4 linked regions of the Homo sapiens genome follow. The protein of the gene in region 2 binds, or shares a complex with, the protein of the main gene of each other region. Each region holds a gene or a part of one and is shown on either strand. Other genes may lie near its edges.

Region 1 (6,846 bases), on a different chromosome or scaffold from region 2:
AGAAATCATATGGCTCACAAAGCCTAAAACATATACTGTCTGGCACTTTATAGAAAAAGTTTGCCAACTCCTGAGCTAGAAAATTGATGGGAAAGGTTTAAGAAAAGATTCATCGGACCCCAAATCTCCACATCCAGAGCCCTTGGAAATCCAACAAGGCTAGTAGACTTAAAAAACAAATCAGTCATTCAGATGAGGCCTTGGCGTAGAACTCTTTAACCTAACTGCTACTAAAGCCAAACTGAAATGCTCTTAGGAAAAGGATGTTTTGGTGATGAGGGAAAGTAAGGGAGATTTAGAGCATCGGCACCACTTGGTGGGTTTTTAGACAGTCTTGCTTGTTTGTTTCTGGACAGATGGAGAATGGCTTCACTGATAAATTCCATTGCAATGTCACTGGGGGCTAAGGCTGCACTTCCTCCCCAAAGCCCAACATTCTTCATTCAACTGGACTCATTCTTGCTTCCTGAAATGCTCAGAGTGACAATGTGGAGAATGAAACCCTGATGACTGGGCTCTGTGACAACTCATAGGAAAATCGGGGGGTGGAATATTTTATGGGAAATGGCCCAACACCAGCAGTAGGAAGCAAACAGAAGGTGAGAACAGACTAGACCTATGTATGGCAGTGGCAATTAATAAATACAACAGTTATACCATAATACATTTATTTCATTTGTCTTATAACGCATAATTATTTCTTCTTTTTTCAATTCAGGTAGTTTGAGCTGTTTCCTGGTTTAGAGTCTTATCAGTCAAACCTAACACACTTTCTCGTTTTATGACTGCTGTATTAGGGTTCTCCAGAGAAAAAGAACCAATAGGATACACCTCCCTCTTGAAAGATTCATCAGAAGCTATTTGCTCTGTGATTATGGAGGCTGAGGAGTCCCATCATCTGCCCTCTGCAAGCTGGAGACCCAGGAAAGCTGGTGTTGCAGATCAAAGGGCTGAGAGCAGAGAGCTGATGGTGTAGATACCAGTCCAAGTCTGAAGGTCTGAGAACCAGGAGTGCTGAGGGCACAAGATTCATAGCCCAGCTCAAGATTGAATTCAAAGAGTGAATTCAATCTTCCTCTGCCACTTTGTTCTATTTAGGCCCTGAATGGATTGGATGATGCTCACCCAACTGGACCCATATCTACTTTACTCCGTTCACCAATTCAAAATGCTAACCTCTTTCAGAAACACCCACACAGACACTCCAATAAAATATTTAACTAGATATGTAGGAATCCTGTATCTTAGTCAAGTTGACATGAAATTAACCATCACAACTACATAATAAAAACCAGTGATAATCAGCATATCAGTAATTATGCAAAATAGTTAGATTCACCTTACCATAGACAACAACCTATTGATGGCTACTGCCCGCTGCTGGGCTTCTATATGAGGCATTTCATTCTGAATTACTTGGTCTGTGATTCCATGAGGGAACTGGTGACATAATTCTATAATCCTAGAAACAAAGGTATTAATGTTATCCTTCATGGTTACCTGTTTCAAGAGACAGTGGGGGTAAAAATACAAGTAGAATAGTTTGAAACTGTGCCTTTTTCACATTTGGCAGACAATCTGGGTTTCTGTGATGGTTTTGGATCAAAGCATGTTAGAAATTGAAGAAGATGATTTCTAAATACATGTTTACAGTATTATTGTTATTTAAGAATATTTCTTTTCCTCACTAATAAGAACTTTAAATTAGAGCAAAAGTCTAATGAAATCACAGAAAAAATATTAAAGCTGAGACTTCAGTTTTCTCGGGTGTAATAAGCATGACAAAGTTAAGCCATAAATCTGCAAGCAGGAGGCAAATGCAGATGTTTCTGGTAGGAAGCCAAAATTTGTTATGACAATTCACCATAATGGGGCCTGTTTTTGGAATTATACCTACCAAACAAAAAAAGTCAAAATCTTCACCTAGTCGACATCAACAAATGTATTATTCCTAACAGTCTGAGAAAGTTGAGTCTTTTAAAACTACGTGAAAATCTAAGAGTGGCAGTGCCTCGGTAAAATATAAAACTGGGCCGGGCGCGGTGGCTCACGCCTGTAATCCCAGCACTTTGGGAGGCCGAGGCGGGCGGATCACGAGGTCAGGAGATCGAGACCATCCCAGACAACATGGTGAAACCCCGTCTCTACTAAAACATAAAAAATTAGCTGGGCGTGGTGGCGCGAGCCTGTAGTCCCAGCTACTCGGGAGGCTAAGGCAGGGGAATCGCTTGAACCCGGGAGGCGGAGATTGCAGTGAACCGAGATCGCGCCACTGCACTCCAGCCTGGCGACAGAGCGAGACTCTGTCTCACAAACAAACAAATAAAAATAAAAGTGGCAGAGGCTTTGGGTGTCCTAAAAGTCTTGAGTTCAATACTGCACTGAAACCACCTGGCTTAATGTTACTTCGTAATCACCAACTGCGCCCTAACTCCGCCTAAACGTTTTGTCATAGACGTTCCCTTAGTGACAAGAGCGATCCTGGATCAGAACATGTATTCACAAGTGTTCTACAGGGAAAGAAAGCCGAGGGCTCCTCTCAAAGCACTGATCGCGTCAAAGTAGGAAGGCAGCACGTCATCACAACTTCCCCAAAAGTATCAGGGCAAAGCCAGCCAGCTACACAAAGTTGCAAGCTGTCAAACCCATTTTGAACTTCTTGAGTTCTGCTCTCCCAGGATGGGAAGGAACAAGTGGGTCCAGAACCCCGCAATCGTTTTTCCCGCGTGCTCACCTAACCCGCTCCGGCCACTCCCAAGGGATCCCGGAGAAGGGGTCCAGCTGCCCAAATGACTGGGCGCCTGATGGAGTGCCAAGCCGGAGCCTCACTGGTTTACCTGTTTTCTATTTCGACCGGATCCGCGTCAGGCGGCTGCACCTTCACCTTCACCTCCGCCATGAGGGCGCAGTTCCTGACGCCTGGGGGGAAAGATGCACGGAGCAGCCCGGTAGCAAGCCGGGGAACCCGGGGAACCAGTGGAGGATAGCGCTCTGCTGAGGCCGAGGGGCCTTCTTCCTCGTGTCGCAGCCGGTCCTTCCTTGCCTTTCGGCGGGAGGTGGCCAAGCTGCGCCTGCTCCGGCCCACTTACAGGCGCCGCTACAGCTTCTTATTCTTGTTTTCCAGAATGTCAATGCCCATCGGACGCACAAGCCTGGTTCCTTCATTCTGAGTTGGGAAACCAACTTTTAGCACTTGGCAACTCTGTGAAGGAATATTCTTAGATGCCTATGGGAAAGCACTGGGAAAGGAACTCCAGGCGGGTACCAGGCTCCCTGCGGAGCGGCAGGGGCCGGTCTAGTTGCTAAGAAGCTGAGTCTCCACCAATCATCTGCCCAGCACCCAGTGGGCGGGGCGCGGCTCGCCGCGTCTGTGGTAACCCGGGCGGCGGCGAAGGAGGAGGCAAGAGGCGGTGAGAGGCTGGCGACTGGGTTGGGCGCGGCAGAGATGCATTAGGGGTCCCGATCCCGGGCCCCGCGGTTAGAGGAAGAGGAGGGCGGCTAGAGGAGGGGAAGAGCTTCCCTTACTCCAGCCGAAAGGATGCAGGTGTCCTTGGCAGCCCCTGATGGGCGGGAACAACCAAACGGGATTCCGGATCCGGGCTGCGAGGGGGCGGTCCACGTTGGGAGAGTTGAGGGGTCTGGGGATCCTGTTGACTGCACGTTGCCATTTGGGCCTGGCGGATCCGCCTTTTTTCTTGATTCCCTTTGCGTGGGGCCCACTGGCCACCCCAGCTTCCTAAGGGCAGCTGCTAGTTGACGCTCGCGAATTACTTCCTCTCCTACATATTTTTTATTTAGAATTTTTCAACTACTTTTATTTTATCTGCCTTTCACTTAAATGGAAATGCGACTATGGGCAAGTCTCAAGTCCAGCCACACTCCCGTAGGAGCTATTGTTGTGCTGTCAGTATCTGTAGTTTATATTCTTGGCCCTAGATCCGGAACTATCCAACAAGGCATTAAGTTCACCCCTTAAATTTAGGTACCCCATTTTTGAGAATACAGTCTGTGACAAAGCTCAAACTGCAGACATGTTCAGATCAGCATTATTAGAACTGCAACAGGCAAAACTAAAAAGAAACTAGAAATAGCCTAAATGCCCAGCCACAAATGGATAAATAAGTACAGGGAAAACTAAATAATACAGTGAGAATGCAAGAAGTAGACTATAAAAATGGAATGAATATGTAGATTATAATTGGGCAAAATCTATGGATTATTAATGAAATTTGAAAAGGCAATACAGAGATGTAAATGGTTGTTGTGTTAAGGTGAGCGTTTTTTCCCCCTGAAACCTTCTGTGCATTAATTATGACAACCTTCCTCCCCACCCTCACCTCCAAAAAGACCAGTAAGGCTTTCATACTGGTAGTTAATTATTAATACCAGGATTTATAAATACAGTAGATGAAACGGGAGGCTTGTGTTTATTGGTCACTGTTTATATTCTTGCAAACTTCCTTTCCACTGAGAAGTAGTACTCTGCAGTCCTTCTAAAGTGTCTTTGCAGCTTTCAAATACTAGAACTGCTCTGGTGATAATGGCAAGGCTGTGAACCCGGAGCTTTCCCAAAAAAGTTAGCTCTAACTAACATTTTGTGGTACACACAGAATTACTTCTGTTCCCCTTGTATGATGACTTGCCCTGAAGCCAAGAGAGCTGACACACACCAGAGGCAGGAAAAGGCGATAATGATTTACAGGGAACTCAAGTCAGAGCGTTAGTGATAGTCTCTGTTTTGCCTTACTCATTTAATTTGTCCTTTTAAAGTAACTTCTTTCTTTTCCCCATCTCATTCATTCATGCTCCTTTCGCAGAAGTGAGGTATTTAGATAATCAAAACCCCACACAAGACCTCAACAGCAAATACAGATGAAATGTAATTATTATTTCAATTAAAAAGGGAATAATATTTGTAGTGCCATGTTAACAGTATTCTCTCGTTTTAACTAGTTTTGCTGCATTTAAATTAAGTGCTGCTCTTCAGCTTTTGTGTACATTGGAATTTATATGTATATATATATAGAGAGAGAGAGAGAGAGAGAAAATGACTGCTGGTTCAGTGTGTGTCCCTCAGATCATACCATTACGAGTGCCTCAGCCTGGAAAAGCTAACCATGAAATTGATAACAATACGCTTTTGGAAATGAAATCAGGTAAGAATCACATATGTTTGAAATTGTTTAAAATAACATTGTCATATTTCTTGTGTTATCTGGTTGCTGGTTTATCTCTTTGCCTGCTTTCTCACTCTTTGCTCAGCTTTTTGGGAAATTTGTAAAACTTCTAAAATTTGAAACAGTGCTGTACATTGATGGTTTATAGAGTGGTATACATTTAGATTAAAATGGTTAGCTTTGACCAACCTTTCATTTGTATAGTTTCAGCAATGTCTTGACTTACCTTAGCCAAGGTAAGATGTCCCGGTGCTGGCCGGGTGCGGTGGTTCACACCAGTAATCCCAGAACTTTGGCAGGCCGAGGCAGGTGGATCACTTGAGGTCAGGAGTTCAAGACCAGCCTGGCCAACATGGCAAAACTCTGTCTTACTAAAAATACAAAAATTAGCCAGACATGGTGGTGGGCACCTGTAATCCTAGCAACTCAGGAGGTTGAGGCAGGAGAATTGCTTGAACCTGGGTGATGGAGGTTGCAGTGAGCCGAGATCGCGCCAGTGCACTCCAGCCTAGGCAACAGAGCAAGACTCCGTCTCAAAAAAAAAAAAAAAAAAAAAAAAAAGTCCCGGTGCTCCCCAAACTTTTCCAATATGCTCATTATTTAGCTGGTATAATAAATTTGACCTACTGATACAGGCTTTCCAGTCAGACAGGTTGGAGACTTAATCCCTGCCTTGACAACTTCTAGTGACCTTGGGTACATTACTTAGCCTTTTTGAGTCTGTTACCTCACTGTAAGACAGGAATAATAATATCTACTTCTTAGAGCCATTGTGAGGATAAATAGGTTCGTGTATGTATGAGGTGCACAGGGTTTGGCATATAGTAATGTGAAAATAAATCTCAACTCTAACTACAGAAATAAAGCAGTGAGGGCCAGGCCTGGTGGCTCACGCCTGTAATCCCAGCACTTTGGGAGGCTGAGGCAGGTGGATCACCTGAGGTCAGGAGCTTGAGACCAGCCTCCTGTCTCTACTAAAAATACAAGATTAGCCAGGCATGGTGGCCAATGCCTGTAATCCCAGCTACTCGGGAGGCTGAGGCAGGAGAATTGCTTGAAGCCAGGAGGCGGAGGTTGCAGTGAGCCGAGATGGCGCCACTGTACTCCAGCCTGGGAGACAGAACAAGACTCCATCTCAAAAAAAAAAAAGAAAAAGAAAAAAGAAATAAAGCAGTGAATGTATATCCTGCTAATACGTATTCTTCAAAATCTTAAATATGTGTGTATATCTACACATACACATATATATACATACACATATATAATTAACATAAGGAAGGAAAGTTTCACAGGTAAAACATATGAACAAATAGATGTGTAAAAAAGACTTTGAAATTCCAATTTTTGCCTTTTTTTAACCAATTATATATTTTAATAACTGAAATGTGTACAAACTATCTGCATTTATGTTATGACCCCTGTGCTGCTTAGACCAAGAGTTCTAACTAAGCATATGTATTATTATCTGTGTTCTCCTTTAGCTTAAAAGCTGATACAATTTTTTAAACTGTCAAACCAAATTAAACATTTTAATGTATGTGCCCATAATTCTTAGGAGAAGTTGGGTGACTATTGACAAAAGATGATATGAATGGTAGGGTATCAAAATTCCCTAATATGTAAATATCAAATAAATAAATAGTTTTCACAATTCAGTAACAAAAAGAAC
Region 2 (7,033 bases):
CTCCATGAGGACAAGGATTATTCCCACTTTGCTCAGTTTTATTCCTGTCAGCACAATGTCTGGCAATAATAGATAACTATTTACTGAATGAAATTACTAAAGAAAAACAAACTGTAAACATTCACTTTGGCATTCTTCTATACAACATAAAGCTCCATTTTATTGGTTTCCCAATTTTAAAATGTTTTAGTTAATAATTTATAATGTAGCCAGTATAATAAAAAATCTGCAGTTATGCAAATGAAAAGGTCTACAATAATTGAAAAGTCTTTCTTAGCAGCTCCACAATTCCATAACTAAAGGAAAATCCTAAGTGAATAAATGCAGGAACAGAAAACCAAATATTGCATGTTCTCACTTATAAGTGGGCGCTAAACACTGAGCACACATGGACATAAACATGGGAACAACAGACACAGTGAACTACTAAAGTCGGGAGGGGAGGACGGGGTGGAGTGAGTTAACAAACTACCTATTAGGTAGTACACTCACTACCTGAGTGCAATATACCAATGTAACAAACCTGCACATGTACCCCTGTATCTAAAATAAACACAGAAATTTAAAAAAAGATAAAACATTTAAAAATTAAAAAATAAGACATACACAAAGAAAAGGCAACAACTAAGAAAAAAAACACCCAAAAGACAAACAACAAAAAACAAGCTTTAGCAAAATAGTTATAATGCATATATATACACACACACACACATACATGGGGGGACAGAGAGAGGGAGAGAGTCAGTGTCCTAGACAGAGTGTCAGGGTCTTGCTCTGTCTTCCAGGCTTAAGTGCAGTGGTGCAGTTTAGGCTAATTGCAGCCTCTGCCTCTTTGGCTCAAGTGATCCTCCCACCTTAGACCCCCAAGTAGCTGGGACTACAGGTGCATGCCACCACACTTGGCTAATACTTGTTTTAACTTTTTGTAGAGACAAGTTCTCACTATGTTGCCCAGGCTGGTCTCAAACTCCTGGGCTCAAGTGATCCTCCCACCTCAGCCTCCCGAAATGCTGAGATTACAGGCATGAGATCCCTTGTCTGGCTCAAAATAAGAAAAGCATTAAGAACAGTGAGTATAACTTTGGGTTGACAAATCCATATTAACAGAATGTAAGAAATAACCTTTTCCTACCTGAATTACTATTATATTAGTCAATGTACCTTTTTTACATTTATTTCTTGGCATCATCTCTCTTGGAAGTCTTCTCCAATCTGTACATAAAATAAAAAATAAAAAATTGCAGTTTCCTCTAGGAATTTGTGGCATTGAACATAACTATTTGAAGGACACAACAGTTGTCCAGAAAATGACAATAAAGTGCCTTAGTATCTGACTTTACAAATTTAGCTTGAAACATATAAAAACCAAATCCAAATATTACAGACAATGATATATTTTCTCCTATAAAGAAAATTTATTACAATAGCTCTGAAATAGTGCTATAAAATTTTTGGTGAAGGAAACCTTATGGTAATTATTTGTGGGTGTTGGAATTATGACAGTTTTTCTTAAGTATTATTTATATTTATTTGACCACTTTATATTTCATAAGTTTTCTGTAGTTGATATATTCTGTAGTTGATATATTTCTTATGCAACAAATTTTTTTTTTCAAAAGGATGTTACCATAATCCCAAAACATGCAAAATGAAATAAACAATTGTAATATCTGAAAACTTTAAAATTAAAAATATAAATAGCTGTCAAAAACAAATCTCCTCCAATAAATAATTTTGCTTGTATTAGCTAAATAATTCCTCTAATGTGTCACTTTCTTTTAATTTTTAAGCATAGAGTTAAACAGGAAATGGAAGCAACATAAAAGTTGATTTAAAAATATTGCCTGCTTTTAAAGAAAATTTGGAGCATTTTTACAAAGCATTTAAATCTCAAGTCATTTTACCTGAAAAATAAATTTTGCTTTGAATATATTTTAGTTTTTATAAGCTATTCATTTTAGATCATGACGGAATATGTAGAGAATCATTTGAGAGATGAATACTAATGAAACGGAAGAAATGAGAGACCTAAGTTGTTTCCAGGGTGCCCCAACCTTACCAACACTGAAAAGATAGTACTATAATCTGTGAAAATGATAAGGCTGTTAATGCCATCTATGTTTTTACATAAGGGGAGTTTCCATAAAAGACCAAGGACAGAGACATAAAAAGAATGTGAATTAAAATGAGAAGACCTGGGTTCTAACAGTATTGGCCACATGGCCTGACAGGTCACTTTATTTCTATGACAACTGTTTTTATTTGCAAAATGAATGAGTGGGATGAGATCTCCTTTACAGACCCTTCTAACTTGTCCATACCCAAGGTAAAGCTTCTTTTTGGATATGGTTCTTTTGAAGAAGCCTAACAACTAAAACTAGTCTATGTCTGCTTAAAAGAAAGGAAGATCCATGAGCTTGGCTTAAAATATCTTTAAAACGAGATTTTTGCTTTCTCTTCAAATGCTCTAAAATTGCTCAGGAGCATAGTATTTGTGCTTTCTGGTATTACAAATTAAAATTGTGATTGTGGCTAATTAAATTGGAAAATTCAAAGGGTTTGTTTGGCCTGTCCTATTTTTGTAAAAAATGTATATTAAGGGTGGGGGGTGTTGGCTCATGCCTGTAATCCCAGCACTTTGGGAGGCTGAGGCGGGCGGATCATGAGGTCAGATCAAGACCATTCTGGCGAACACGGTGAAACTCCGTCTCTACTAAAAATACAAAAAATTAGCTGGGCATGGTGGCGGGGGCCTGTAGTCCCAGCTACTCGGGAGGCTGAGGCAGGAGAATGGCATGATCCCTGGAGGTGGAGCTTGCAATGAGCCGATATCGTGCCACTGCACTCCAGCCTGGGCGACAGAGCAAGACTCCATCTCAAAAAAATAAATAAAATAAAATAAAATATACATATATATATATTTTAAGAACTTCCACAAAAGCACTTCAACTCTTCCTTGTTTTAGCATAAAAATCTTTTCACCTTAGTTTCTAACAGATTACTAATTAATCACAATAAAAGAACCAGACTCAGTTTTCCTATGGTAAAAATAGAAAACTTATTCTAAAAAAAAAACATGAGGTGAGAGAGACAGCCTTTAAAAACTGTTTTCATATTGTGTGTTTTGTAGTTACCTGGTATCCATTCTTCCTTGTATACCTTCATGTATCTTTTACTATACCTTTCAATATCTAGGGGAAAAAAGAATAAAGAACTCATTAGGAAAATCAACAGTAACCCTGAACTTAAGCCATTCCTTTAAGATTATTGAAAACAACAGACAACATTTTTAATTTTACATACAGGGAGTTTCCCACCTTTGTACATAAGAGAATGGGAAAAAGGGTAGGGGTAGGCAAGGATGGACTTGGTGAGGGGTTACTGATCTGAGGCATAAATGAGCAAGCTGCAAGCCCTACATGCCAATTGCTGAAAACTCTGCAGGAACCCTCTGAGCTTGCCAAAACCAGTAAAGCCATAACTGCGGCTCTTGATTCAGACTAGTCCACCTTATCACAAGAAACACCCTTAAGGAGGGCACAAACTCTTTTCCAGCAGCACAAGTTGGAAAGCAACACTATCACACAAAAGCTTGAAGCCATGTTCATCATAAAAAGTAGTTCAGGAGTTAGGCATGAAAAAGGGAAGGTAATACTAAAGATGAATGGATAAAAATCAAGGACCAAATATATACTGATTTTTCTTCTATGTCAAGTATATGCTTCCAAATAATACAACCACGTATTAGAGAAAGATAACCAAAATAAGTAGTAGATCAGAGACCAAGAGATCAGGTTTTTCTAGGTATTTTAACTGTTTGACTTCAGGTAAAATGTTTTAACTAATCTTGCCAAGTTTTTAATCTATAAAACGAAGTCAGCACAAATGAGAGATTCCTAGAATTTGTAACACAATGACTTCTTTTTAAGAATTTTCTCCAAAACAGTTTCCATATTTTAAATAATTTTAACCCTCAGTATACCGGAAAAAAACAGTTTTTACCCTTTTTCTCTGGGTACAGTAGACCACTTTTTATATTTTAAAATATTTTTAAGTTAATTTCAAATAATGAAATACAGAGAATAAATAAAAAAGATAACAGATAAAAGAACAGATATTGAAAACCAATTATTGGAACCCAATTAAAAAGAGGTAAAGGATTTGAATAGACAATTCTCTAAAGAAGATACAAAAATGGACAAAAAGCATGAAAAGATGTCCAACATCACCAATCATTACGGAAATTCAAATCAAAACCACAATGAGATACTGTGTTACAACCACTAGGATGGCTAGAATAAAAAAAAAATAAGAAATGTTGGCAAGGATATGGAAAAATTGGAACTCTCATACATTATTGATGGGAATGTAAAATCGGGTGGCCACTTTAGAAAACTGTTTGGCAGTTCCTCAAAATGTGAAATACAGAGTTACCATATGATCCTATGTATATACCCAATATAAATGAAAACATGTCTTCACATAAAACATGTACATGAATGTTTATGACAAGATAACTCATGTAATCCCAAAAGTGAACTGACCCAAATGCCCATCAAGTGATGAGTGGATAAACAAAATGTGGCATATATCCATACAGTGGAATATTATTCAGCCATAAAAAGGAATGAAGCACTCATATGTACTAAGCCATGAATGAACCTTGAAAACATTATGGCAAGTGAAAGAAGCCAAAGACACATGTTACATCATTCCATTTATATGACATGGAATCTCTAGAGACAGAAAGCAGATTTCTGGTGCCATGGGTTGGAAGGAGGGAGAGTAGGGAATGACTACTAAAGGGTACAGAATTTCTTTTCTAGATGATGAAAAGCATCTAAAAAATTAGATAGTGGCTGGGCACAGTGGCTCACACCTGTAATCCCAGCACTTTGAGAGGCTGGGGCAGGTAGATTGCTAATAGGTCAGGAGTTCAAGACCAGCCGGGCCAACATGGTGAAACCCCATCTATACTAAAAACACAAAAAAATTAGCCATGTGTGGTGGCACGTGCCTGTAATCCCAGCTACTTGGGAGACTGCGGCAAGAGAATCACTTGAATCCAGGAGGTGGAGGTTGCAGTGAACTGAGATAATGCCACTGCATTCCAGCCTGGGTAACAGAGCAAGACTCTTGTCTCAAAAAAAAAAAAAAAAAAAAAAAAAAAAAAAAAAAAAAAAAAAAAAAATTAAATAGTGGTGTTGATTGCACAACTCTGTGGCTATATTAAAAGTCACTGAATTGTACACTTTAAAAAGTAAATTTTATATAGTGGATTATGTCTCAGTAAAGCTGTTACTTAAAAATCAATAAAACTAGGCCCAACACAGTGGCTCAGGATGTAATCCCAGCACTTTGGGAGGCCAAGGCAGCTGGATCCCTTGAGTCCAGGAGTTCGAGACCAGCCTGAGCAACATGGTGAAACCCCCATCTCTACAAAAAATGCAAAAATTAGCTGGGCATGGTAGCTCATGCCAGTGGTTCCAGCTACTTGGGAGGCTACGGTGGGAGGATCACTTGAGCCTGGGAGGTGGAGGCTGCAGTGAGCTGAGATTATGCCACTGCATTCCAGCCTGGGTGACAGAACGAGATCCTGTCTCAAATAAAAATAAATAAATAAAGTTATTGGAGATTTTACTAAGCAATTAAGTATAGCAAATCCAAATTTATATTACATGTTTTACTGATTTTGAAGGTAAATTTAACCAAAATGGGCAAAGTCATTTGAATGCAGTTTTCTGTGCATCGGCTGCCACATACAAACCTAGAATATATGCCTTCTGTACGTCCTGATCCCAGATTCCAAAGACATCTTTAATAGGTTCTAACTTATAATTTCCTCTGGTTTTCTCATATGTGTATCATCTAAATAATTTCAGATTATAAATGCATTTCTAGTAGAATCTAGCTTATCACTACTTCCAATTCTTCTTCTTGTACTTACATATCCAAAATGCAATACTTTAAAAAACTTTGATGTCTCATACTTTTTTTTTTTTTTTTTGAGGCGGAGTCTTGCCCAGGCTGGAGTGCAGTGGCACAATCTCGGCTCACTCCCAGGTTGACTCCACTCTCCTGCCTCAGTCTCCCGAGTAGCTGGGAGTACAGGTGCCCTCTACCACGCCTGGCTAATTTTTTGTATTTTTAGTAGAGACGGGGTTTCACCATGTTAGCCAGGATGGTCTTGATCTCCTGACCTCGTGATCCACCTGCCTCAGACTCCCAAAGTGCTGGGATTACAGGGGTGAGCCACTGCGCCCGGCTGATGTCTCATACTTCTATTGAAGAGAGGATGGCCCAGCCATCTTCTTTGCTCTATACTTGCAAAATATTTTCATTATTAAATTTATAATCACCAGTTAACACAATCAATCCAGAAAACAATTTCATGTCTATATAATCAATTTCCTTTCAATCATTGTTGTCTTTGCCTTTATGTTCAGCATTTGTCAGTTACAAAACACATCAAATTAATTTTGGTGCACAAATATCATAGAACAAAAATGATCGTCTCATTTTAGCAAACAGGATGTTCCAGGTTTTTGTTACAAAGTATTACATGATGAGTTCTTTTTCAAAGATTGACTGTAGAAGGCCACCATAATTCCTTTTTAATTCTTGGAGATACAGTGTTTACTCATTGATTCTTGAATTTGAGAAAATTCATTGAAGACACTGTCATCTGAAGACTCACAGTCTGAGATTTTGCTTATACAATCAATTTCATCATCATCATGAGCATCCAGAGAGCTATCTATCTCTTTGCATTTGACTTCTGATTCGTCTAAGAATTGTGGAACATGTTTTTCTGTCAATTTTAGACATTATGAGCAAAAAATTAAAAATTTTTGAAATTTTCAATTGTATTAAATGAAAATTAAAACAGAGCAACTACAAACATAAGAGTCTCTGAAGACTTTATAACTTCTTAAAAAACAGATGTAATGCTTTGGACAACACCATAGGAAAACTATATGATGACATAATAGTGATAATTTATTTGAATTGCACAGTCAATTTCATCATTCTC
Region 3 (4,735 bases), on a different chromosome or scaffold from region 2:
ATTTGTGGCTGCAAGAGTTCAGGACTTAACTAGACTATTAAAAATAAAGTGGAAATTGCGTACATCCTACAGGCCACAGAGCTCAAGTACAGTGCACGAACCAGACACTCAAACAGCTGCTGAAAAAATTTTGTCAAGAAACTCATCTAAAATAAGATCGGGTCTCGCCCATGGTCCTCCTCCAAGTCAGGTACACCCCCACCAAACAAACTGGGTATTCGTCCCGTGAAATATTGTTCAGAAGGCTGCCCCCAATCATTAATCAAATTAGAGGGGATTTAAAAGAGTTAGGAGAGCTAACCCTTAGAAGACAGATGCACTCCTAAAGGAGTGACAATGCAAGAGATGCATGGCTAAGTATTAAAAAAAAAAAAAATGCCTATAAGTCTAACAGACCCAGTACACCCTTTCAAACCTAGGGTCTGTGTTTAGGTTAAAAAATAAAATCCAACCACTCTAGGACCCATATAGGATAGGCCCCATATTGTGATCAGGAACTGATCAACATGTTCAAACAATAAGAAAATAGTCATATTAAATGTAAAGATTGGTGGGACACAGTGGCTCACGCCTGTAATCCCAGCACTTTAGGAGGCCGAGGCAGACAGATTATCTGAGGTCAGGAGTTGGAGACCAGCCCGACCAACATGGAGAAACCCCATCTCTACTAAAAATGCAAAATTACCCAGGTGTGGTGGTGCATGCCTGTAGTCCCAGCTGCTTGGGAGGCTGAGACAGGAGAATCCCTTGAACCCGGAAGGCAGAGGTTGCAGTGAGCTGAATTCGTACCACTGCACTCCAGCCTGGGCGACAGAACAAGACTCTGTCTTAAATAAATAAATAAATAAATAAAATAAATAAATAAATAAATAGTATCTTATACATTTAAAGCAACCCGAGGAAGCAAATCAGGGGAGGTTCAAAAAAATGAATAAGGGAGTAAGAATAGGAATAAAGAAAGAAATTGAAATCCCGGTGATTAACATTTTCGTAGCCTGTTCAAATGTAAGTATGTAGTCTATTCTGGGATCACTGTGATTTGGGGTTTGCTTTCTACCTCTTAAGCTATTTAAAACACTGAGAAGGCAATATTCCAACTTTCATTTAAATGAAATATTCAGAATTTTGATTAAAATAAATAATAAATTACACAAGTTTACAAGTAACAGTTAAATATTTAGGGACATGTACTAAGTTTTACAAACAGTACAAATATTTAAGAGTGTTGATTGGGAGTAAGGGAATGTCAACTGCCAATAAAGTGGAAGATGAAAGAATAGGACTTTACACAGAGCATATTTAGTTATGGGTCTCTGTCTCCTCCCCACACAGAAAAACTCCCAGACATTCATGACTTCATCCACCCTGCCTGGCAGATAGGCCATATTTCCTGACCCCCTGGCTCTTCACCTCAAAAGGTTTATCTTTCCACCACACTAGCAAAGACCCTCAGGACACACAACTCATACTGCCAGCTAAGCATCTACCCCGAGGGACAAGGCAAGCACACACTAGGGCAGCTGGGCCATCCTGGCCCTAATCCCTCCAGCGGTGTCCACACTGAGCATTGCAGCACTTGTAGAAGGTGGTCATCGGCTCATCTGCAGAGCGGGTCTGAAGCTGCATGAAGTAAGCACGAGGATGTTCGCATTTGGGACACGACTCTGGCAATGAGAAAAAAGAAGTGACCACATTTAAAAAAAGATGCTACTCATGGCTGTCAAAAGTAGGTATTACTTAATATGTGGGAGGCCAAGGCGGGCGGATCACCTGAGGTCAGGAGTTCGAGACCATCCTGGCCAACATGGTGAAACCCCATCTCTACTAAAAATACAAAATTAGCCAGGCGTGGTGGCGGGCGCCTTTAATCCCAGCTACTTGGGAGGCTGAGGCAGGAGAATCGCTTGAACCCAGGAGGCAGAGATTGCAGTGAGCCAAGATCGTGCCACTGCACTCAAAAAAAAAAAAAAAAAAAAAAAGTAGGTATTACTATAATATCTTTTTTTTTTTTTTTTGAGATGGAATCTCGCAGTCACCCAGGCTGGAGTGCAGTGGGGCGATCTCAGCTCACTGCAACCTCTGCCTCCCGGGTTCATGTGATTCTCCTTGCCTCAGCCTCCCAAGTAGCTGGGATTACAGTTGCCCGCCACCACACCCGGCTAATTTTTTTGTATTTTTAGTAGAGACAGGTTTTCACTATGTTGGCCAGGCTGGTCTCGAACTCCTGACCTCATGATCCGCCCACCTCAACCTCCCAAAGTGCTGGGATTACAGGCATGAGCCACCGTGCCCAGACTACTTAATATCTTTAAAGATGGTAAAGAACCTCCCTGCTCATTTGATCCCCCTTGACAAGGGTAGATCTACAAACAGTGATGTCATTCCCACCACGCTGTAACACTAAGGGAATCTGGGAGACCTGTGACTCACACACTCTCCCCCTCCCCTCCCTGAGTCCCATGGTTCTTCTCAAATCCAGCTGAAGGCTGGTTGGAAACGTAACATGGAAGGTGACTGTTTTGGTCCATTTTGTGCTGCTGTAACAAAATGCCTAAGACTAAGTAATGGTTAGATGGTGGAAGAGTTTTGAAGTAAATGCTGGGAAAAGCCTGCATTGTCAAGAATTGAGCATTAAGGGCCGGGCGCGGTGGCTCACGCCTGTAATCCCAGGACTTTGGGAGGCCAAGGCAGGCGGATCACGAGGTCAGGAGATCGAGACCATCCTGGCTAACATGGTGAAACCCCGTCTCTACTAAAAACACAAAAAATTAGCCAGGCGTGGTGTCGGGTGCCTGCAGTCCCAGCTACTCGGGAGGCTGAGGCAAGAGAATTGCGTGAACCCGGGAGGCGGAGCTTGCAGTGAGCCGAGATCGCGCCACTGCACTCCAGCTTGGGCAACAGAGTGAGACTCCATCTCAAAAAAAAAAAAGAATTGAGCATTAAGGGCGATTCTGGTGTGGGCTGAAAAGAAGAGAAGAGGCCGGGTATGGTGGCTCTTGCCTGTAATCCCAGAACTTTGGGAGGCTGAGGCAGGTGGATCACGAGGTCGGGAGGTCAAGACCAGCCTAGCCAAGATGGTGAAACCCCGTCTCTACCAAAACTACAAAAATTAGCCGGGCGTGGTGGCAGGTGCCTGTAATCCCAGCTACTAGGGAGGCTGAGGCAGGAGAATCGCTTGAACCCGGGCAGCATAGGTTTGCAGTGAGCAGAGATCGTGCCACTACACTCCAGCCTGGGCAAAAGAGACTCCATCTCAAAAAAAAAGCCAGGCACAGTGGCTCAGGCCTGTAATCCCAGCACTTTGGGAGGCTGAGGCCAACAGATCACCTGAGGTCGGGAGTTCGTGACCAGCCTTATCAACATGGAGAAACCCCATCTCTACTAAAAATACAAAATTAGCTGGGCGTGGTGGCGCATGCCTGTAATCCCAGCTACTCATGAGGCCGAGGAAGGAGAATCACTTGAACCTGGGAAGTGGAGGTTGCAGTGAGCCGAGATCACACCATTGCACTCTTCAAAGCGATTTCACTTTGAGAAACTTATCCTACACCTGACAGAAATGGCTTCAAACACTCTATTTCTGACATTAGGTAAAAAGATTTTTTTTTTTTAGACAGTCTCACTCAGGCTGGAGTGGCATGGTCTCGGCTCACTGCAACCTCCGCCTCCTGGTTCAAGCAATTCTCCTGCCTCAGCCTCCTGAGTAGCTAGGACTACAGGCACGCGCCACTGAGCCTGGCTAATTTGTTTTTTTTTTTTTTTTGAGACGGAGTTTTGCTCCTGTTGCCTGGGCTAGAGTGCAATAGCACGATCTCAGCTCACTACAACCTCCGCCTCACAGGTTCAAGCGATTCTCCTGTCTCAGCCTCCCAAGTAGCTGGGATTACAGGCAGGCACCACCACGCTCAGCTACTTTTTGTATTTTTAGTGGAGACGGGGTTTCACCATGTTGGCCAGGATGGTCTCGATGTCTTGACCTCGTGATCCGCCCACATTGGCCTCCCAAAATGCTGGGATTATAGGTGTGAGCCACCGTGCCAGCTGCTAACTTTTTCACATAGCAGATTTGTATGTTCTTTTTTTTGACAGAGTTTCGTTCTTGTTGCCCAGGCTGGAGTGCAATGATGCAATCTTGGCTCACTGCAACCTCCACTTCCCGGGTTCAAGCGATTCTCCTGTCTCAGCCTCCCGAGTAGCTGGGATTACAGGTGCTGCCACCACGCCTGGCTAATTTTTTGTATTTTTAGCAGAAATGGGGTTTCACCGTGTTAGCCAGGCTGGTCTCGAACTCCTGACCTCAGGTGATCCGCCCGCCTCGGCCTCCCAAAGTGCTGAGATTGCAGGCGTGAGCCACCACACCCAGCCTATATGTTCTTTTATAGGGGGAAAACCACAGTACTAACCATCAGTTATCTCTCTCACCTCTCAATATAACTTACATTTACGTCTTCCCCTTTCCTCTCCTGGCCACATCTATGTCTACCAGACATGCAATAAACATGTATTTTACCCAATCTGCAGTTTAATGCTCACTGGTATTAACTTCTAAAAATCTATATTAGAAGCGTGTATTAGTCCGTTCTCACACTGCTATGAATACCTGAGACTGGGTAATTTATATAGACAAAAGGGGTTTTGTTTGTTTTGAGACAGAGTCTCACTCTTGTCACCGAGGCTAGAGTGCAGTAGTGTGATCTCGGCTCACTGCAACCTCTGCCTCCTGGGTTCAAGCAAT
Region 4 (7,322 bases), on a different chromosome or scaffold from region 2:
CCTGTGGGAAATCACCCAGGTCACTAGGGATCGATAAGGAAGATGCCCAACAGCAAGGAAAACGGAAATGGGAGTGGGGAAATTCCACTGTTCTCGCCCTTCTCTGGGGCAGTCTGAACTGAAATTCACTGATTCCTTCCTTATACCTTTTTTCTTCATCATTTCAGCTGGGCCCTGCTCAAAGATGGAGTGAGACTGGATCACTTCTGGACGGCCTCGCCCTCGTCCATGCCCCTCTCGTTGTCGGTCTCTGTCCCTTTCACGCTTCTCCTTCTTGACAGTTACTTCTTCCTTGGGCCTGGAAAAAAGAATGGATTAAGGGAAACCACTCACTCACTGTGTCTCCAAAATCTGGCCTTACTCTCCCATACCACTTCACTCCAAAACAGTGGAGAGTTTGAGCCAATATTTACACCATGAGAAGCAGAATCCAATCCTAATTCTAGCACTTTTCTCACTTCCTTGATGAGGCAGGATTTTTTCAGTTTGCTTTACTTTACCTTCTTGTCCAAAAATATAGATTTTTGTTTGCATTGGGACTGAAAGCAGGAAGGCAGAAATGCAAAGGAACTTCAGGGAAAGTGTGATACATCTTTGTTTAAACTATTGGCTCTCAACTCGGGCAACAAAGAGAATCACTCCATTCTACTGCCAGCAAGTTAAATCACAATTTCTAAAGATGGAACCCTAGACACCAGTAATTATTTATTTATTTATTTATTTTTTAAAGCTTGCAGAATCACCTAGGAGCCAGGGTTGAAAATCACTAGTGAAAAGAACTAAAGATATAAATTTAAATTTTGGAGCTACAAACCTAGTTATTTCCCCCAAAGCCCCAAATTCAGAGCAAGTAAATAAGGGGCAAGTATTCAGAAGGCCTAGCTACTTACTCTTCCTTGATCTTCCGACTGATGATATTTGGGGTGAAGGTTTTCTGAAAGCAAAATACAGGAGTCACTGATGTGTTAGGTTCTGACCCCAAAGTACAGAGGAAAATAAAAATTCCCAAAGGGCATCTTCTACAGACCAAGGCCACCACGGCTCTCGTTGGCACATTCCACAGTGCTGTCAGTTTTATAGATACACATGTGCCTGAAAAGGAGGAATGTCATAGTGTGGTAGCAGTGGAGTTACACATAGAAGGGGGCACCAAAACCCACTTTTAACCAGCAGCCTTAGGTTCTGCCTCTGAAAGAAGATCCTCTGGGACTTCTAAAAGCAAAGGAATTTCTCTGGTCTCACCTCTTCTCTTCAAACTGCTATAGAGACCAGTCAGTATCATGGGGGAACAGCTCTAGCAGCAAGGCCTAAGTAGGGAAGGCCATAGATCTGCCAACACTTTCAATCAGGTGACTATGGACTGTCACCACAATTTTCCAAGGCAAAGTTAGGTTTTTAAAAACTGCTTTATGGCTGGGCGTTGTGGCTCATGCCTGTAATCCCAGCACTTTGGGAGGCCAAGGTGGGTGGATCACGAGGTCAGGAGTTCAAGATCAGCCTGGCCAAGATGGTGAAACCCGTCTCTACTAAAAACTACAAAAAGTAGCTGGGCGCGGTGGCGGGCCCCTGTAATCCCAGCTACTCGGGAGGCTGAGGCAGGAGAATCGCTTGAACCCGGGAGGCGGAGGTTGCAGTGAGCTGAGATGGTGCCTCTGCACTCCAGCCTGGGCGACAGAAAGAGATTCCCTTAAAAACAAAACAAAAAACCAAAAAACCGCTTTATTCGGCCAGGAGCGGTGGCTCACACCTGTAATCCCAGCACCTTGGGAGGTCGAGGCAGGCGGGCGGATCACGAGGTCAGGGGTTCAAGAACAGCCTGGCCAACATGGCAAAACCCTGTGTCTACTAAAAATACAAAAATCAGCTGGGCATGGTGGCGGGCGCCTGTAATCCCAGCTACTCAGGAGGATGAGGCAGGAGAATCGCTCAAACCTGGGAGGCAGAGGTTGCAGTGAGCTGAGATCGTGCCATTGCACTCCAGCCTGGGGGACAACGGCGAGACTTCCTCTCAAAAAAAACCAAAACCAAAACCAAAACCTGCTTTGTTCTTCTGTCATCCTGACCCCACCCCTTTCTGGGCTACTCTTGACATCCACAGTCATATACACATGGGAGAGGCCACAGAGCCTCGAATGCCATACCTAGGATTCATCATACTCTAGATAAAAAGTTTGCACACAGAGATGGTGAATTCTGAACCCTCTAAGACTGCGAAGTTTATGCCTGTCTGGCTTTCATGGGTTTCTTAAAGATGTCCAAACACACAATAAAAGTAAATAAACACTGTTCAAATTGCTTTTGAACGACTTTAACTTATTAGGATTCTCTGCCCTTCAACCACCTCTGGGAGTCATTTCAACATCTTGTACTCAGTACCTAGATTTGAAGGTAGGACAGACTCCCTAGAATTTAAAGAGGGGTAGGCTTGAGAGGCCCAACGACAGTCCTGACACACAGTAGGTCCTACACAAACATTAGTTGAATCCTGGGGCTTGGAATTCAAGGTAGTTGAGTTTCTTTAGAAACGCGCCGTTGGGTACCTTCTTGACTCCCCCGAGGGTGAGGTCCCTGGAACGGATGGAGGGAAGGCGGCCGGGGGTGAGGGGAGGCGCCGGCCGCCGCCCGATGAGCCCCCGGGCCCCAGTCAGGAGAGGTCGGGGCCCTCCCGGCGTGCTGGGCTCGCCGGCGGCGTTTCCTTCCGACATGTTGCCTGGGAGAGAAGGGGCGACGAGATCACCAGAGGGGACTGACACGCGGACCCTGGCGGAACCCCACCCCCTTGCTTTCCGGTCCCCCAGTCGGTGCGTCCCTCCAGTGGCCTCTCAGCTCCTCCCCTCCCACGTGGCGAGACTCCCGGGACCACCCAGGTGAGAGCCTTTGGCTCGCGACACGCCCTCTCCAGGAACCCCGCCCAGGAACCAGACAGGGACGCACCCGGGCCGCGGCTCCACACCGCGCGTCACAACCTCACCTGCAACGCGACCAGCCGCCAGCCTTCGGTCTCCGCGCCGGGCGGAAGTCTGCGTGGCAGGGCCTGGGCGCCGCCATCTTGGCGCGGGGCGGAAGTGACGTTAGGGGGGCGGGACTGGGCCACAGTATTTATCAGGCGGCGCTTCGCTCCCCTCCGCCTTCTCTTCCCGGTTCTTCCCGGAGTCGGGAAAAGCTGGGTTGAGAGGGCGAAAAAGGATGAGGTGACTGGTCTGGGCTACGCTATGCTGCGGCGCTCGGGGGTCTTGGCCTCCGGGCGGTGGCGTGGAGGCGCCAAGATCAGGGTCCCGGGTTTTGTCGGCCACCACGCCGCAATGTGAGGATTCGCCTCGGCGGAGCCCCTGGGAGCTTCGGGGTAGCTGCTCGGGATGGGGCGAGGGGCGCGGCGCGGCGCAGAGAGTGAGACCTGGACTTAAGAGTCGGGGAGTCCTGGGCCACACCGAGCCCTGTCTGCGGGTTCTCCATGGTGACCTTGGAGTGGTCATTACCTCCGGGCAGCGACCTCGCCCACTTTCGGGGACCCCTTCCCTGTGCTCCTGGTGGAGTCCTGGGGTGAGGCTGTGGGGGCAGCTTGGAACAGCCGCAGTGGACCAACCGGTGCCCAGTCATACCCGCTTCTGATCACGAAGGCGGTGGCCCTCGTGTGCGCTCTTGGTCAAAGCCTGGAGGGAATTGGAATACCAAGTTTGCTCTACTGCTGGAGGAATTTAAAGAACTTTTGTTGACTCCAGCGTTTGTGATTTAACATAAAAGGTGTCATTTAATGTTATCCCCCATCCCCCAGACCGTATAAAAACCATGTAACAATATTATGGGGAGTTTGAGGAAAGGAAATCATTTCTACCAGAATGCCACGTAGAGTACTACTATTAAAAATTTTGTAATGTATCTAGTAGTCTTCACAGAGTTGTCGTATCACAATTTCGTGTCCTTTTTCTTTTCTTTTCTTTCTTTTTTTTTTTTTTGAGACGAGGTTTCTCTCTGTTGCCCAGACGGGAGTGCAGTGGTGCGATCAACACACCGCAACCTCTGCCTCCCAGGCTCAAGCCATGCTTCCACCTCAGCCTCCTGAGTAGCTGGGACTACAAGTGCATGCCACCACGCCCGGCTAATTTTTTCTTTTTCTTTTTTTTTTTTTTTTTTTTTTTGTATTTTTCGTAGAGACGGGGTTTCACTATGTTGCCCAGGCTGGTCTTGAACTCCTGAGGTCAAGTGATCCCACCCGCTTCGGCCTCCCAATGTGCTGGGATTACAGGCATCAGCCACCACGCCTGGCCTGTATCCTCCTTTTTCAAATAACATTTCTCTGTTGCGACATCAAAGACTGCGTAGTTCTCCAGTGGCTGTATCATGATTTAAGTATTTCCCTGATTGTTTCTTTTTTCCCTGTTTTAAATAATGCTGCAGTGAATGTCTGGTACATTTGACTTGCTTTTTTTCGATTTTGTTTTTGTTTTTGTTTTCTTTTGGATTATATTCCCGGGATAGATTTCCCGTCCTGGGATAACTGGCCAAAAGAAGATTTTTTTTTAAGTAAATATTTGCGATAGGCACGGTGGCTTAGGCTTGTAATCCCAGTGCTTTGGGAGGCGGAGGTGGGAGGATCGCTTGAAAGGCTCGGCAGTTGGAGATTTCAGTAAGCTATGATCCAGCCCTTGCATTCCAGCCTGGGTGACACAGCAAGACCCTATCTCTAAAAACATTTTTTAAATTAAACTTTTTATTTTGAGAACATTGTAGGTTCATGTAGAGTGGTAAGAAATAATGTAGAGAGATCCCAAGTACTGTTTACTCGTTTTCCCCCAGTAGTAACCTCTTGCCACCAGAATATTGACATTGGTACAGTTAAGATACAAGAAGTTTCCATCACCACAAGGATCCCTCTAGTTGCCCTTTTATAGCCACACCTCCCTCCCCCCACCTCCTCCCACCACTAATCTGTTCTCCATTTCTGCCATTTTGTTATTTCAAAAGTGTTACATAAATGGAATCATACAGTATGTGACTTCTTGGGATTGCTTTTTTCACTCGGCATTGTTCCCCGCAGATCATCCAAGTTGTGTGTATCAATAGTTCGTTCCATTTTATTGCAGAGTATTCATGGTTTGTTTAACCATTCACCCTTTGAAAGACATCTGGTGGTTTTCCGTTTGGGGTTATTATGGATAAAGCTGCTGTGAAAATACATGTACAAGGTTTTGTGTGAACGTAAATTTTTATTTCTCTGGGATAATTGCCCATGAGTGCAATCATTGGGTCATATGGTAGTTGTATCTTAGTTTTATAAGAAACTGCCAAGCTGCTTTCCACAGGGGCTGTACCATTTTGTACATGCACATTTTATGGTTCTTCATTCATATTGCTAAATTGCTTTCAAAAAGGATTGTGTGGCCGGGCGTGGTGGCTCACGCCAGTAATGCCAGCACTTTGGAAGGCCGAGGTGGGCAGATCACTTGAGGTCAGGAGTTCCAGACCAGCCTTGCCAACATGGTGAAATACTGTCTCTACTAAAAATACAAAAATTAGCTGGGCGTGATGGCACACGCCCATAATCCCAGCTACTCAGGAGGCTGGGGCACAAGAATCGCTTGAACCACAGAGGCGGAGGTTGCAGTGAGCTGAGATCACGCCATTGCAGTCCAACCTGGGTGACAGAGGGAGACTGTCTCAAAACAACAAAAACAAAAAAAACCCCACAAAAAAACAAGATTGTGCTGAAATGCATCAACACTAAGAATGTGTGTATATACAATAATCAAACGTATATACACACACACACTATATACACACACACACATTGTGGGCTTTTGAAGGACTCCTGGGTGAGGCTGTGTGGGCAGCCTTGGAACAGCCACATTGGATCAACCGGTGCCCAGTCCCACCCTTCCTGGGCTCACAGCAGTGACCCTCATGTGCACTTTTGGTCAAACCTGGAAGGAATCTGAATACCAAGTTTGCTCTACCGTTGGAATTTAAAGAACTTTTATTGGCCAGGTGTGGTAGCTCACACCTGTAGTCCCAGCACTTTGGGAGGCTGAGGTGGGTGGATCACCTGAGGTCAGGAGTTCAAGACCAGCCTGGCCAACATGGTGAAACCCTGTCTCTACTAAAAGTACAAAAATTAGCCAGGCCTGGTGGCGGGCATCTGTAATCCCAGCTACTCGGGAGGTTGAGGCAGGAGAATCACTTGAACCTGGGAGAAGGAGGTTGCAGTGAGCCAAGATTGCGCCATTGCACTCCAGCCTGGGCAACAAGAGCGAAACTCTGTGTCAAAAAAAAAAAAAAAAAAAGAGCCGGGCACAGTGGCTCACGCCTGTAATCCCAGCACTTTGGGAGGCCAAGGTGGGCGGAACACGAGGTCAGGAGTTCAAGACTAGCCTGACCAACATGGTGAAAACCCGTCTCTACTAAAAATACAAAAATTAGCCTAGCGTGGTGGCATGTGCCTGTAGTCCCAGCTACTTGGGAGGCTGAGGCAGGAGAATAGCTTGAATCCGGGAGGCGGAGGTTGCAGATAGCTGAGATTGCGCTGGAGTGTAGACTCCAGCCTGGGAGACAGAGCAAGATTCCGTCTCAAAAAAAAACAACAAAAAACAACTTTTATTGACTCCGAAATTAATGTGTGTGTAAACACACACACACACACACACACACACACACAGAGAGAGAGGTAGTATATAAGAATATATAATTTTAGGGCTTGGTGGCACCCACCTGTAGTCCCAGCTACTTGGGAGGCTGAGGAGAGAGGATCGATTGAGCCCAGGAGTCAAAGGCTGCAGTGAGCCTTGATTGTGCTACTGCAGTCCAGCTTGGGAGACAGAGGAGACCTTGTCTCAAAAAAACAAAAAAGAGAATATATAATTTTTTGGCCACATCCTTTTGAGTATTGGCTTTTAAAATTTAGAACTTTGTTTGCCAATTTACTAATATATTAATATTTTGTTATGTTGTTTTCTAAACAGATCCTTTTCAACTTCTTTCTTCATGTTGATTTTACAATAATCAAACCAAACCAATACCCTTTTCCTGTTCCCTACAGAGCTACACGCAGCAGCCCTTAGCTTCTAATTAGAGCACTGGATGAAATAGCTTTGATTTCATTCTGTTGGGCTTTGAAGTTCACCAGGTAGTAGCTTTTTTAGTTTTTTTTTTTTTTTTTGAGACGGAGTCTCGCTTTGTCGCCCAGGCTGGAGTGCAGTGGTGCAATCTCGGCTCACTGCAAGCTCCACCTCCCAGGTTCATGCCATTCTCCCGCCTCAGCCTCCTGAGTAGCTGGGACTACAGGTGCTCGCCACCATGCCTGCCTAATTTTTTGTATTTTTAGTAGAGAC

Evidence for each region.
Region 1: POLR3G (region 2) and POLR3F share a complex: the UniProt entries of both Homo sapiens proteins name them as parts of the RNA polymerase III complex.
Region 3: POLR3G (region 2) and POLR3K share a complex: the UniProt entries of both Homo sapiens proteins name them as parts of the RNA polymerase III complex.
Region 4: POLR3G (region 2) and POLR3D share a complex: the UniProt entries of both Homo sapiens proteins name them as parts of the RNA polymerase III complex.

What each region holds. Positions count from the first base shown.
Region 1 is NC_000020.11:18,463,560-18,470,405, reverse strand, and holds the start of POLR3F (DNA-directed RNA polymerase III subunit RPC6), read right to left. Parts: upstream 3,017-6,846; 5' UTR 2,900-3,016; coding exon 2,838-2,899; exon of another isoform or gene 2,735-2,837; intron 1,463-2,734; coding exon 1,345-1,462; intron 1-1,344. Other genes in the region: DZANK1 (double zinc ribbon and ankyrin repeat-containing protein 1), read left to right, coding at 3,539-3,544, 5,027-5,156. UniProt on the Homo sapiens protein: DNA-dependent RNA polymerase catalyzes the transcription of DNA into RNA using the four ribonucleoside triphosphates as substrates.
Region 2 is NC_000005.10:90,491,835-90,498,867, reverse strand, and holds part of POLR3G (DNA-directed RNA polymerase III subunit RPC7), read right to left. Parts: intron 3,192-7,033; coding exon 3,135-3,191; intron 1,213-3,134; coding exon 1,162-1,212; coding exon of another isoform or gene 1,133-1,161; intron 1-1,132. UniProt on the Homo sapiens protein: DNA-dependent RNA polymerase catalyzes the transcription of DNA into RNA using the four ribonucleoside triphosphates as substrates.
Region 3 is NC_000016.10:45,894-50,628, forward strand, and holds the end of POLR3K (DNA-directed RNA polymerase III subunit RPC10), read right to left. Parts: intron 1,665-4,735; coding exon 1,537-1,664; 3' UTR 514-1,536; downstream 1-513. UniProt on the Homo sapiens protein: Core component of RNA polymerase III (Pol III) which synthesizes small non-coding RNAs using the four ribonucleoside triphosphates as substrates. Can mediate Pol I proofreading of the nascent RNA transcript.
Region 4 is NC_000008.11:22,240,833-22,248,154, reverse strand, and holds the start of POLR3D (DNA-directed RNA polymerase III subunit RPC4), read right to left. Parts: upstream 3,023-7,322; 5' UTR 2,972-3,022; intron 2,711-2,971; 5' UTR 2,706-2,710; coding exon 2,541-2,705; intron 935-2,540; coding exon 891-934; intron 299-890; coding exon 147-298; intron 2-146; coding exon 1-1. UniProt on the Homo sapiens protein: DNA-dependent RNA polymerase catalyzes the transcription of DNA into RNA using the four ribonucleoside triphosphates as substrates.